2 linked regions of the Homo sapiens genome follow. Each later gene encodes a partner of the first gene's protein in a complex. Each region holds a gene or a part of one and is shown on either strand. Other genes may lie near its edges.

Evidence for each region. The genes of interacting proteins can lie anywhere in the genome.
Region 2: the proteins of TBC1D23 (region 1) and STX16 are in contact, whole or in part, in a crystal structure (PDB 8QQF), measured with the Homo sapiens proteins. Residues at the interface, in NP_001186127.1 of Homo sapiens: Leu638, Asn639, Ser640, Val641, Val642, Lys643, Ile644, Thr645, Ser646, Lys647, Lys648, Ser661, Ser662, Ala663, Ile666, Thr683, Lys687, Ile690, Met691; in NP_001001433.1 of Homo sapiens: Asp209, Asp210, Asn211, Thr212, Leu213, Tyr214, His215, Arg216, Phe218, Thr219, Glu220.

What each region holds. Positions count from the first base shown.
Region 1 is NC_000003.12:100,256,969-100,263,991, reverse strand, and holds the start of TBC1D23 (TBC1 domain family member 23), read right to left. Parts: upstream 3,001-7,023; 5' UTR 2,974-3,000; coding exon 2,921-2,973; intron 1-2,920. UniProt on the Homo sapiens protein: Putative Rab GTPase-activating protein which plays a role in vesicular trafficking. Involved in endosome-to-Golgi trafficking.
Region 2 is NC_000020.11:58,661,257-58,668,294, reverse strand, and holds part of STX16 (syntaxin-16), read right to left. Parts: intron 806-7,038; coding exon 698-805; intron 309-697; coding exon 168-308; intron 1-167. UniProt on the Homo sapiens protein: SNARE involved in vesicular transport from the late endosomes to the trans-Golgi network.

The DNA.
Region 1 (7,023 bases):
AAATCACCGACCATGTTAGGGTTCCTCCATTCATGAAAATGAAACCAGCAAAAATACAAAGACACACCAAAGATACATCAATCCTACAAGAGAAAAAATGCTGTCTCTAGTAAACATTCACTCCATGTCCTCTGCCCATGTGAACCAGAGATTCTCACAATCCCTCTAACCTAAGAACTCCCCAGAGGCACCTTAACTGTGGAAACATTTCCCCTCATGGCACTCTATGAGCTGGTTACCGCCAGTTTATGACACAATTCACCGTTCCAAAACAGCAAACTTCAGGCTATAACCAGCTAGGTCACTTTCTGAAAAGTGTTGTAATGTCTGTCACTGATTCTTAAAAGGTGCATTTAATTAGTTAAAAACTTTTTTACTATTTTTCCAGATCTATTTTTCTTTTTTCTCTTGCCATTCTTGCAGGATACCAGAAGCAAAAAGACGTATTTTTCTGCAACTTCTCTCCAACCAGGTAGTTCTCATTCTTACTCTCAAAACAAATTAGTTGTCTTGTCTATGCCCTTGCTTATGCTGTTACTGTCAGGCCTCTGAGCCCAAGCCAAGCCATCGCATCCCCTGTGACTTGCACGTATACGCCCAGATGGCCTGAAGTAACTGAAGAATCACAAAAGAAGTGAATATGCCCTGCCCCGCCTTAACTGATGACATTCTACCAGAAAAGAAGTGTAAATGGCCGGTCCTTGCCTTAACTGATGACATTACCTTGTGAAAGTCCTTTTCCTGGCTCATCCTGGCTCAAAAAGCTCCCCCACTGAGCACCTTGGGACACCCACTCTGCCCGCCAGAGAACAACTCCCCTTCGACTGTAATTTTCCTTTATCTACCCAAATCCTATAAAACGGCCCCGCCCTTATCTCCCTTCGCTGACTCTCTTTTCGGACTCAGCCCGCCTGCACCCAGGTGATTAAAAGCTTTATTGCTCACACAAAGTCTGTTTGGTGGTCTCTTCACACGGACGCGCATGAAAGTTACTCCATTCAGAGGCCTTTCCCATCTCTTAATCTGATTCTGCACTAATATGTTAGCTCCAAGCCATGTGTGGATATTTAATATCTGAAATGTGGCTAGACCAAATTGAAATATAAGGTAGCTGTAAAATGCACATTGGATTTTGAAGACTTGGCACAAAAAAGATGTACAATTATCTAATTTTTTAAACAATGATTACATGTTGAAATATGTTAAATAGATTATTAAAACTGATTTCACCTGTTTCTTTTTAGTGTTTTTTTTTTTTTTTTTTTTTTGAGACCGAGCCTCACACTGCCGCCGGGCTGGACAGTAGTGGCTCGATCTCGGCTCACTGCAACCTCTGCCTCCCGGGTTCAAGCGATTCTCCTGCCTCAGCCTCCCAAGCAGCTGAGATTACAGGCACGCGCCACCACGCCCGGCTAATTTTTATATTCTTAGTAGAGACGGGGTTTCACCATGTTGGTCAGGCTGGTCTGGAACTCCTGACTTCAAGTGATCCGCCCGCCTCGGCCTCCCAAAGTGCTGGGATTACAGGCGTGAGCCACCGCGCCCAGCCTTCTTTTCAGTTTTAAATGCTGCTACTACATAATTTTAAATTACAATATGTGGCTTCTATTAGACAGCCCTGGGGCTTAAATCCTACTTATTCTTCAAAGCCTAGTTGAAACACTGCTGCTTTCATGAAGCTTTCCCCCAGTGACTCCAACTGCCCCAGCCCCCACCGCCAACCTCTCGTAACACTTTGAATCACACTCACAAAGAATAAGATTAATTTTACCTTGTTACACCTTCCCAACTCCAACATAAGCAAGTTGAAGAAAAAAAAACTATATCTAGATCACCATGAAGTTTTCCTCTGACACCTTGGAGAGCCCAGCGCTACGGTAATGTTTGATGTCTGCTAATGGAGAGCTGAATTTCTTAATTACTAATTATCTATCCCTTTCAACGATTTCCATTTTTTTCCTCTGGGATTAAAGTCGATGTCTATCAATGTCCTGTATTATTTTTAAAGTGCCCATGAGCTGTACACATACAATATAACGAACAAGCAAATCCAAAACTAATACATGTGGTCAATACACTTAGATCAACTGTAAAATTTAGACAAGCCTCTAAAGGTCCCTTTTTAAAAAATGATGTTGTACAACCTAACAGTGTATCGTGAGATCAACTATTTCAAAAGTAGAAGCCTTTCCCAAAGATTAACACTGGGTGAGCAGTTTACCAAAAAATTATTGGCGGTCTTCCCCCACAATCCCGAGTATAAATCAGGTAAGCATGCAACAGCTTGGGTGCAGTAAGAGCAAAGTCCCACACTGCATCCAAAGCTCAGAAATCGAGCTGTGAGAAATGTGGTAGTAGGGGAAAAGATGACTTGCGTGAAGGAGACGAACGATGAAAACTGTTGGAATGCAAAACGAGATAACAGCCAGAATAAAAAAAAGTATACCAACTAAGTGGGAGGGATTCTCCTCGGGTCAACCTCTGAACCCTCAGGCGAAGGTCGCAGTGGTCATTTCAAAACGTCTTTTCTTCACATTGTATTTTAGTGACTCAGATCTGCATCCAACAAACTTCCTTCTTCAGCCTACTCCAACTCCCACAGCCAGGACTCCGGCCAAACCCAGCCCTGAAGCCACCCACTCCAGCACACTTTGGAGACTGACAGACGACACAGGAGGACCGTTCTGAGGCCCAGCACCTGGATGACACCCCTCTCCTTGGGAGTCCCGCCCCAGTCCCTTGGGCAGAACCAGGCAGGCAGGGGGCACCCAGCTGGCAGAGGGGTAGGGCAGGGCACCGGACTTCGCCTAGGACCGGCCTCTCCGTTCCATGCCGACGCCAGACGGCTCCTCGGGGACCGGCAAGATGGTGAGAAGGAAGAATAAAGGGGCATTGGAAATTAGCCCCGGCTTTCACTCACCAGCCGTCGCCGCTCGACGTTGGCAGCGGCGGCACATCTTCTCCTTCCGCCATTGCTGTTGACGTCCACGTCACTTTGCCGAAAAGTGGATCCGGCGCTGAGACCAACTCCGAGACTCAATGTCGTAAAAGGTCTTCGGAAGTCCAGCACTGAGCTTCCCCAGAGGGGAAGAAAGAGGGAGGTGGCAAGGGACTGGAGGAACGCAACGTCACGGCGTCCCGAGGCCGAAAGGCAGCGTCTTGGGGGAGGAGACTTGGTGGAGGCAGCTGCCCCTCCAAAGACTACATGTCCCAAGATGCCACGGTGCCGCGGGCGGGGCGGGGCGCGGTGGACGCCGTCCCAGTTGGAGGCCTTGTGTGACAAACAGCGTGTCTTTTTAGCGTCCACTTAGCGTCTTCATTCCAGCTTGGCGTCGAAATTAACAAAGTTAGAATTTACAGTCCTAACTATTGGAGAAAGCAAGGGAAATGGGAATTGACATAGGGAAGGCGGACGTAGGAGAAGAGCCACAGTTCAGTAATTTCCTGCTGTAGCAATTTAATTTGAAGAAAGAGTGGGACGTAAGGAAAGGGGCAGACCACCCCTATTTGTGAGGCCCCGTCAAAAGTGTAAATGAAGGCCCACATACTTTTTGACTGAATATTTAAAAGTTGTAAATGAAGCTATATACTAAAGGAGATACGTTCTAGCCTCCTACCTTAAATATATCTTCCTAACAGTCTGGAAGATCAAGTCCGAATTTAGAATTCTAGGACTGGAATTCCAGGCAAGCAGAGCTGCCAAAATCCTTCTCTACGCGTTCCACTTCCCCTTTACACCGCATGGGCGGACACTTGGCCACCGCCGGGGCCTTGGGGTGAGCACACGCTCAGGAGGATGGACCTAAAGAAACGCTTTTGCAAGCCCTGAAAACAACAGTGATGAAGTAGAACTGCATGTAACAATATGGATACATCTGAAAAATACGCTGTTAAATGAGCAAAACAGATTGCAGACGGATAGGTAAAGTATGGTATCATTTATAGTTGGTGTTTAAAAGACAATATATTTAAAATAGATCCATATGAGTTTAAAATGCAGGAGAATGATATATAGAAAACTCGGAATGGCAGTTACATTCAGGGAAAGGGAGGAGTTTCCATGAATTTTTAAATATTTATTAAGGGCCCCAAGGTGGCCACATAGGTGGCCAGTGTTCTTTATAGAGTCTATACTTAGGTATCTAAAATGTTTCATAGTTTCAAAAACTATTTGTTTTAAATAGATACAAAACAGTACAGCTATCTCATTTACAACCAAAAACATGTTCACTCTCTTCCCTAAAGGGAAATAATACAGATCTGCATGGTACTGCACCCACTTCCAAGGCCCGGATCTCTGTAATGTTCAGTTCTCTGTTAGGGAACATTTCTTTTAACATAGAATGAGACTGTAGATGCCCTCTATCAAAAAGAATAAAAGACGTGAATCTAGGTCACATTACCATTCTAATATTCAGGACCTCCCCTGGGTCCCTTCAATTGTTGCCAGTAGATTTTCAGAAACTTTTCAGAAAATGGTTTTAAAACCTATTCAGTCATTGACATGAGAAGCAGTTGCTCACTGGTTAAGAAGATTCTAGTCCTCAATTATGATTCATTTTGAGTATAATTAAATCAGCAACTGCTTTATAGTCTCTGGTAAAATATTTTCCCATTAAAAATATGTCACTTGACATTTTTAAACAGTTCTTTATTCTGTCAAAATAAAGTGGAAAGTTCTGACTTCTATGTTCTTTAATGGAGCCAGAGCCAGCTTCATGGGCATGTAGTCTATGCAATAGCATGAGACCACATGCTTAGAAGAACTCTGTGCTTGATTTCATGCTCTGGTGTTGCCATCTTGAAATTCTTAATAATTTGGGAACAAGGAGCCACTGGTTTTAATTTTGCACTAGGCCTCACAAATTAGGGAGCCAGTTCTAGATAGGGTCAATATCTTAGTGATGTATAACCCATTGGGGACAAGATTTCAACCAAAATTGTTTAGCGATAGTGTCTTCTAGCGGATTTTTTTTTTTTTTTTTTTTTTTTGAGACAGAATCTCACTCTCACCCAGGCTGGAGTACAGTGGCATGATCTCAGTTCACTGCAACCTCTGCTTCCTAAGTTCAAGTGATTCTCCCGTCTCAGCCTCCCAAGTAGCCAGGACCACAGGCGTGTGCCACCACGGCCGGCTGATTTTTGTATTTTTAGTAGAGACGGGGTTTTGCCATGTTGGCCAAACCATTTTTCTTTATTATTATTTTATTTTTATTTTTCTGAGACAGGGCCTCACTCCCTCAAGTAGAATTTGTTAAATTCTAATAATGGACCTCTGCTTAAAACAAAACAAAAATGCTTTTCAAGAACTAGAGAAGATTTCATTATGAAATCTTGGAGTGCGTCCCCTGCTTGCATTTGTGCATCTAATTGTAGTTCCCACATCCAAATGGGAAGGTGTATTATTTCATATTATCCTTGGATAAAATCAAAGCGTATTTCTTATAACAAGAAAATTAAAATGTCTTAGTTTTAAATTAAATTATAGAGAACATAAAAAGATTTTTCATTTATTATTTGGTGTTCTGAGCCATATAATTATGTAATTTATACTGTATTACATGTACTTAATTTGTACCATGCCTATGACACATAGTAGAATCTCCATAAATATTTGTAAAATGAACTAGGGAATTTTTTGTAGTACTTTTGTAATGGATTAAGCTATTCACCTATATAGAAATGGCTGGTTGGGTTCAGGGACAGGTAAGGATTATGAACTCATCTGCATAGTCATAGTTGTTATGTGAGTAGAATTTAATTCAGTTTTCATTGTAATATTATTTTAGCATTTGTTAAAAAGAGATGGAGAAATAACATAGCTCTTGATCATTTATTCCATATTCGTGCAGCCTTTTCTTGACTTTCGTGCATTCTTAGATAAAGACAAAGACCTAGTAAGATGTTTTAATCTACTGCTGCACAACAAATTACCCCAAAACTCAATGTCTTAAAGCAATAAACACTTAACTCATAATTTCTGTGCATCAGGAATCTAGAAGCAGCTTAGCTAGATGTTCTGGCTTAGGGTCTCTTGAGGTCAGAGGCAAGATGTTGGCCAGGGTTGCAGTCATGCAGTCATCTAAAGGCTTCAGTGGGGCTGGAGGATCCAGTTCCGTGGTGGCTCACTCACATGCCTGATGAGTTGGTGTTGACTGTTAGCAGGAGGCCTCAGATACTCCCCAAATGAGCCTCTCCATGGGCTGCTTGAACATCCTCTTGACATAGTGGCTGGCTTCCCGCAGAGTAAGAGTTCAACAGAGACCAAGATTGAAGCTACAACATTTTTTTTATTACCTACCCTCAGAAGTCGTAAATTCTGCAATATCTTATTGGTAAGCCTTATTCAATGTGGGAAGGAACCACAACAAAGACTTGAATACCCAAAGACAAGAATCACTGGGGGCCATCTCAGAGGCTGGCTGCCACATGAAGTAATATTAAATCCTACACATTCTTCATTGTTCAGTGAAACTTTCCCCTGAGATTCCTGCTCATATCATCTCAGCCCTTCTTACATTCTGTCGCCTCTGACCTAGTTTAGGACCATCAACAGGCACTCTCATCTGGGCACTACAGCATCTTATATTCTTTAACTCTGAGAATGACAACTATTTTTAAGTTCCCCTGTAGCCTCCAGTGCACCAAATGCAGGGCAGAACATATAGATAGTGCTTAAGAGTTCTTGTTAAATAACAAAATATTGATTTTTGTTTCTGCAGCTATTGTGTGAGAGTTTCAGAATTCTAAACTTTCCCAAGAATTTCCCTTTTTATCTTACAAGGACAAATGGTTTCACACTTATCAAAATTACTTCAGTTGTTTGTCGTTTTAAAATCCCATCAGGACCTGCATTCCCAGGCTCTTTAAACTACTGAAGCTTAACATTTGATTGAATGATGAACAAAACCCAGTTAATTCCCATTCACAGATGACAAGTGAACAGTTGGCAGCAATTTCAACATCTGCTTTTAATTCATTTTAAAATGTTGAGCAAACTGATAAAAAAAAAAAAAGCTGGAA
Region 2 (7,038 bases), on another chromosome or scaffold:
CAGGTACCTACGCTGACAGCTGGAGGACTTCAGGGCCTCTTGAGGTCCCTCTGAGAACTTCAGGTTGGGAAATGACTCCAGGAGACTGATTCTGAGTAACACTCTAGTTTCTGAGATTGCCATGAGAAGGCTCGCTGGTTTCCCCAGGACTCACTTGCACTCCTCACCTGAGTGATCTCTTGGGTAGTTATCTCAATGGCATGTTCCTCTTCGCTGCTGTCATCCAGGGTGGGTCTGTTTAAATGCTTGTCATGAAGGCTGGCCAATTCTTTCATCTTCTGCTTAATCCGGCCAACATCATACTGAATCTAAGCAAATGAAGTCACAGAACTCCACTGATGCCAGGCAGGCTATGGTCTGCCTCCATCAGCTACACTCAGCATACAGAATTCGGTCTTCAGCAAACTTGTTGGCTTGCTGATGTGTGAGCAGCTTTTAATTCAAATTACCAGAAAATCACATTCTTCCTTGTTGCATGGGGTTTCAATTTCTTCCTATAATTCAGGTAGTTACTACCAATGTTAAAACTACAGCTAAAATCATTAACACACACATAGACAACTTAACCTAAAGCTAAAGTATTTCTAGAAATATACATTCAAGTGTAGCCAAATTCGTTTATATGACAGATATCTTAAAATACATTGTCATAATTACTTAAAAAAACAAGATGCTATGAAACTAACATGGAACTTACTTCATCCACTCCATCCACCCACTTAGGAGGTGGCCGTTTTGTCACACCAATCGCTGCTTCTGGATCTAAGCTGATGCCTGACACCAGTGCCATACGGTCATCAGCAAGCTACAGGAAAGTAAAGGGACATGAAAAAAATTATTCTAATCCAATTTAGATACAAATACTCTTACTCTCTCTTAAATGTTACTCCCTGAAAAGATACAGAAAGGAGTGAATGTTTACTCTCTCTTAAATGTTGCTCCCTGAAAATATATAGAAAGGAGTGAATGCACTTGCCTGTATTATAAACTTGCTTTTGATAACTGCTAGGATTTGGATTGTTTTCCTATCTTTTCATGCACCAGCTCTTAATTTCCTTGGACATACTTCAGAACGTAAATTTGACTTGATCTGGCTATAGAAATGTAATGAAAAAGTCAACAAAAGATCCTTAAAATAAAGACCTCTTACTACTAGTACTGTGATAGAACGGCATGAACCTCAATGATTCTTGTGATCAGTTGCAAGTGAAAAAAAAAACTAGGCAGTAAATGAAACAACTACAAAATGCTCAATAGTAGCAAGGTTTACTTAAATACACTTAGCTTATTTTGGAAATAGGGCTGATCCAGTTATCTCAGTCACACAATCATTAACCATGTGTTAAGATGTGTGAAACAACTGCCTAAAACCGCTAGCAAATTATCTACCATTTGGCAAAAGCAATCCTTAAGATCTCAATGCAATCTTACACTGTCATTTCTTTTCTTCAGTTAAATGTCCACAGGGAACATTTCCCCTTATTTTGAAATGGTATCGATGGTTCCTGTTTATTTTAACTATATAACACACTGCGGTAGAAAGCTTTTAAGAATGGGAGGGAAATCGGCTGGGCGCGGTGGCTCACGCCTGTAATCCCAGAACTTTGGGAGGCCAAGGCGGGCAGATCATCTGAGGTCAGGAGTTCGAGAGTAGCCTGGCCAAAATGGTGAAAACCGTTCTCTACTAAAAATACAAAAATTAACTGGGCATGGTGGCTTATGCCTGTAATCCCAGCTACTCGGGAGGCTGAGGCAGGAGAATCCCTTGAACCCAAGAGGCGAAGGTCGCAGTGAGCCATGATCGTACCATTGCACTCCAGCCAGGGCAACAAGAGCGAAACTCTGTCTCAAAAAAAAAAAAAAAAAAAAAACACACACACACACAAAAAACAGAGGGAAATCATGGGTTTGGCACGGTTAAGCTGTTTTCTTGCCTGCAGGCAGTGAATGGGTTGAAAAGATTTTGAGGTGCCCTCCAGAGCTCAGAATTTTTAAATGCCAGTTTCAAAAGATCCAAATGATGATCAAAATATAATGGAAAATAATCTATAAAAGCCCTTTATAGATAATACTTTGGAAATTTTCTAAATCACACTGTAGAGTTGGGTGAAAAATTCATATTGCTTTTCTTCCCTCTTCCTTGCATTTAACTAAATTTATTTTTTCATTCATTAAATACTTATTTGCTTTTCTAATAATAAAGGAACAAGACAAAATTTTAAAATCCACAGATGAAGGGGGAAAAATATCATATAAAGAAAAACTTAGAATAAAAGACCACTTCAAGTAATAGGCCCTAAATCCTAAAGAGTTCACAGTAAAATTCTTAAAAGCAAATTGGTATCTTCACCATCAACCTCCCTGCATGCCCTGGAGTGGTTCTGCCACCATCTGCTTCAGGCTTTCTGTGTGCTCTGGGGCACGTGTCCACTCAGGGAACGCATCTTAGGCAATGACCACGCTGGAAGGACTAGGCCCCATTCACTAATCCCAGCACGTCCAGGAGCCGTGATTAAGCCCAACGGTGCTCAAGCGTGGCACGGATGCTGCAGGGCCAGTGTCATTTCTTAAACAAATGGTGTGTCATCCAAACCCGCACTGTCTGGGGCTCCCGGGCCGTGAAGTGGTAATTCTCCACCACCACTACCTTCTGTTTGGTTTCAAGAGTTCATCAATAGGAATTTTACATTCTTGACATTATTTTAATCCTCATAAAAACTAGGTGAGTTAGAAACTATTATTCTAACCTATAAATATGGAAATTGAAACTCAGAAAAGTTAAGTCGCTTGCCCAAGGTCACAGAGCCATTATGTGACAGACTGAAACCTGGGTCGGCTGACTCCAGAAACCCCTTCCACCCTCAAAGGTGCCAATCACTCCACAGGCCCATAAACTATAACTGCAATTTGCTAAGAAAATGAATCAAGACAAGCCATCAGATTAAAACAACAAAACACAGTAGTTTGATTCATTTCCCACCAACTACACCAGGCACTATAGGACAGGCCGCCAGTGAGTGACGTTAGTGTCAGTAAAGATCATCCTCTCTTACTGACCATCCGTGGACAGAGAGGCGCAGACCTCACCCTCTACAGAGCAGGCACAGAGAGGGCCTGTGCCAAGCACTCAGAGGCAGACTTGTTTATTCCTCAACACTCCTGCTCCAAAGTCACCAAGAGGTACACAACTCTGTGGAGGACACACTGACTAAAAAGCAGGGGGACAAACCACAGGCCCAGCTCGCAGCACCTGCCAGCCATACATCAGGTGCTGTCTACAGTATTGCTGGACTGGAACAGAACTTGAACTCCAGCTGTTTATACAAAGTAAAATCTAAAATTGCTAAAGGACCTCTTCATGGGTCCTAGAATTTCCACTACACCAGTTTATTATCGAATCCACTATATTTTATTATTACACATTTCAATCAGTAATTATTTATAGTGATTTTAGAGTTTTTAAGCTCATGATCTTATTTTGTACTGTTTTTACTGTTTACAAATACACATTAAACTAAAGAAGACAGAGAGATGGTATCTATCTAAATTTACCTGCATTGGGATTAGTATCATTTTATCCAAAACAACAAATTATAAACCACATATGAAAAGTCGGTTGAAGTGAATACAACTCTTTGAAGCAGTACTTGATTTTATGCATGTGTTCCCCTCAAATTAGATGTAAATCAAAAGTGGGGAGAACACACTCTTTGTTAAGGGTCCTAAGGAAGCTTGCTAATTAGAGATTCCTACATGAACAGCATGGATGCCAGCCTGCTCAGCTGGTACTAGCTTTCCCACACATTGTATCAGAGTTTTGCCAGTAAGATAGAACAGCTGATTCTTTGGGAATGAAAACTTTAAATAGCGAATAATTTGTCTCTTTTATGATACAGTCTATAGCTATAGTTCATTATAATAAAGAAACACCACCCTATTGAGAAGAAATGTGTCATTTCTTTTAGCAGTATGGATTTGTAATGTGTATCACAGTATGTACTATTAAAAAACAAGACAGTATGTTTTGGGAAGGGAAAACAATTGTTGAAGATAAGCGTCAACTATTTGAAATGGGAACAAATATGGACATAAACAAATTTTATGTGCAACATAAGCACCCTTTTAATTTCAGAAACCTCACTTTCCATTTAAAAACATGTCTTCTTATTGTTGAAGATCCAGCATATGTATCAATTTTCAAGCTGCCATCCTATTTCATACAGATCTTAAAAAATGGCCAGGTTTCTAATTCTCTCTCCTTACCCTTACTGAATTTCAACATGGTGCCCCCTCCAAATATATGATGTTGGTTTGTGCAGCTGGCCATGGTGGCTCACGCCGGTAATCCCAGCACTTTGGGAGGCTGAGGCAGGCGGATTGCCTGAGGTCGGGAGTTCAAGACCAGCCTAGCCAGCACGGTGAAACCCCGTCTCTACTGAAAATACAAAAATTAGCCGGGCATGGTGGCATGCACCTGTAATCCCAGCTACTCGGGAAGCTGAGGCAGGAGAATCACTTGAACCCGGAAGGCAGAAGTTGCAGTGAGCCAAGATCGTGCCAATGTGCTCCAGCCTTTTATTAAGACAGAGCGAGACTCCATCTCAATACATAAATAAATAAATAAATTTGTGCTTCTGAAGTAAAAAAAAAAAAATCCATATTTTTTAAATAAAAATTGTACTTAAGAGAATTAAGAATTCTTGCCTCTTTGATATGTAGTTCCTCTCTCCAAGAACTACTGGGGTCCGCTACCCTAACCTAGAGCCATCCTTCCTGAGAGAAATGCAGAAAAAATCCAACAGATGTTCAAAACAGCACACCCAATGGCTTTCCTGCCAGTCTCACTAAAGGTATCTTTTGCCTTTGATCCACTTCAAATGTTGACATTTGTCCATTTAAAGAGTACCAGCCAGTATGGACAAGTTCTCCATCTATGGAAAGAACATACACATTCTCTCTTATAAATCTTGCTGTTCCAAATCTATGGCCCTCCTACTCTTAAAAACCCTGCCTTTCCCTGAAGGCTGATTTAGTGTAGACTAAGATTACAGAAATAGCAAAGCCTCTGTGGAGATTGGAAAAGTCAGCTACACCTCCTCCCCATCTAAAAAAATCAACTAAGTTTAGCCGTAACGCATTGGTAATGAGAACAATACCGATAATTCTGGACTGTCTATGGCAATGAACACTTGGAAAGCCCAGAAGGGACACTGAAAATCAACAGACTGGCAACTCACACTTCCACGTGAAACTCTGGGAGCCTGTATGATGAAGTCAGACTACTTCGCTAATAGACAATTAGGCTTAAGAAATCCGAGTTGTTGGAGAAGTGAATAAGCATGTGGATAAAAGAAAAAAGTGATGTCAGCACTACATTTTTCTAAACCCGTAATAATTTTAAAATAATGCTTACCTTTTCTAATTATGAAATTAGTAAATGGTCAAAATAAATACTTTTAAAATGGCATAGGATGACGCAGTGGCTCACGCCTGTAATCCTAGCACTTGGGAGGCCAAGGCAGGCGGATCACTTGAGCTCAGGAGTTCGAGACCAGCCTGAGCAACATGTCAAAACTCCGTCTCTACTAAAAAATACAAAAATAAATAAATAAATAAAATAGCCACGCATGGTGGCACGCACCTGTAGTCCCAGCTACTCAGGAGGCTGAGGCAGGAGAATCGCTTGAACTGGGGAGGCAGAGGTTGCAGTGAGCCGAGATCGCGCCACTGCACTCTAGCCTGGGCAACAGAGTGAGACTCTGTCTCAAAAAAATAAAAATAAATGATACAAAAAATATAGAGATAAAAACACTTGAGAATCACATCACCCTGATACTGTTGTTAAGTTTCACTGATTTTCCTTTTTTCTCAACTAACATACATACTCTGAGGGGAAGAAAAAGGAGGGGAGCAATCCGTCCCTCCCTGCCTTCTGTGAGCACTGTACTGAGCACTGCTACTGACCTGGCCCATGCCAGTCCCAAGAACAATCCTTCAGAGGAGCGCCGCTCCCTATTTCACCAACATGGACACTGGGGCCCGGCCCAGGCACTCCCAGATGTGCAGTCCTCCAGGCAGTGTGGTTTGGGGGCTTGACATTTGTTATCTTGTGACTTTTAAAATAATTCTTGAGTTTAAAAACTCCCAGAGATTTCTTTGTCATAAGACAGGAAGTAGATTAAAGACAGAGAACAAAGGAGAGGGCCAGACACTTCCCTGGGTAAGAGAACCAATGGTGGGCTCGGGTCCTCCTCAGGGAACACCTTACTTAGTGTTTTCTGAGAAGGAAAAGTGACATCTCCAGGGTACTCAGGCTAGAGGAGGAGAATGACAATCAAACATGGACAGACTGCAGGAAGCCTCTGAAGTGAGGCCGTCAGATGCCTTTACTCTGGGAGATGCAAGTGATATTCACTCAGGGACATTTGCTCAGGCCTCCCCTATAAAGGGGTGGCTAACATCTAATCCACTCTGGAGCTGGGTGTTCACTATTTCCAGAGATGCCAATGTGAGGCCCTGCGTCAGCTTCAAAGAAGCCTCTGGACACTGTCCCCAACCACACCCCCTGCTCCTAGGCCAGTACCTGGCACTTCAGAGTCCTGAACGCACAATCACAACCAGCTGAGTGATCCGACAAGAAACGAGTGGAATGAATGCACGAGGTAAATAAAATGTACGTCACAGACAATTGTGGAAGCCACACTTCATGAAAAAGATAACGGCACTGCACAAAAGAGCAAAAGAGGCAAGTGAAACGCACAAGGAAATGAGGTGGCCGTGGGCACCCACGATGAGGCAGCAACCTGCATTTCTAATAGCACTGGGGTGAGCGTGGAGGAGATAGTGCTCTCTACGCAGGGCCTCTGATCACAGAGCGTGAAGACTCCCTTTTAAGCCCTTAGAGGTGAAACATAAGAAAAGCAAAAGGGCCTGCCAAGTTCATGCAGTGAGTAGCCAGTTTCTGGAACTTGCTGCCTGAAAAAGGAAGTAGGAAAGACTGGAAATCGGTTCAGACAGCAGACCCCGAAGTAATTATGA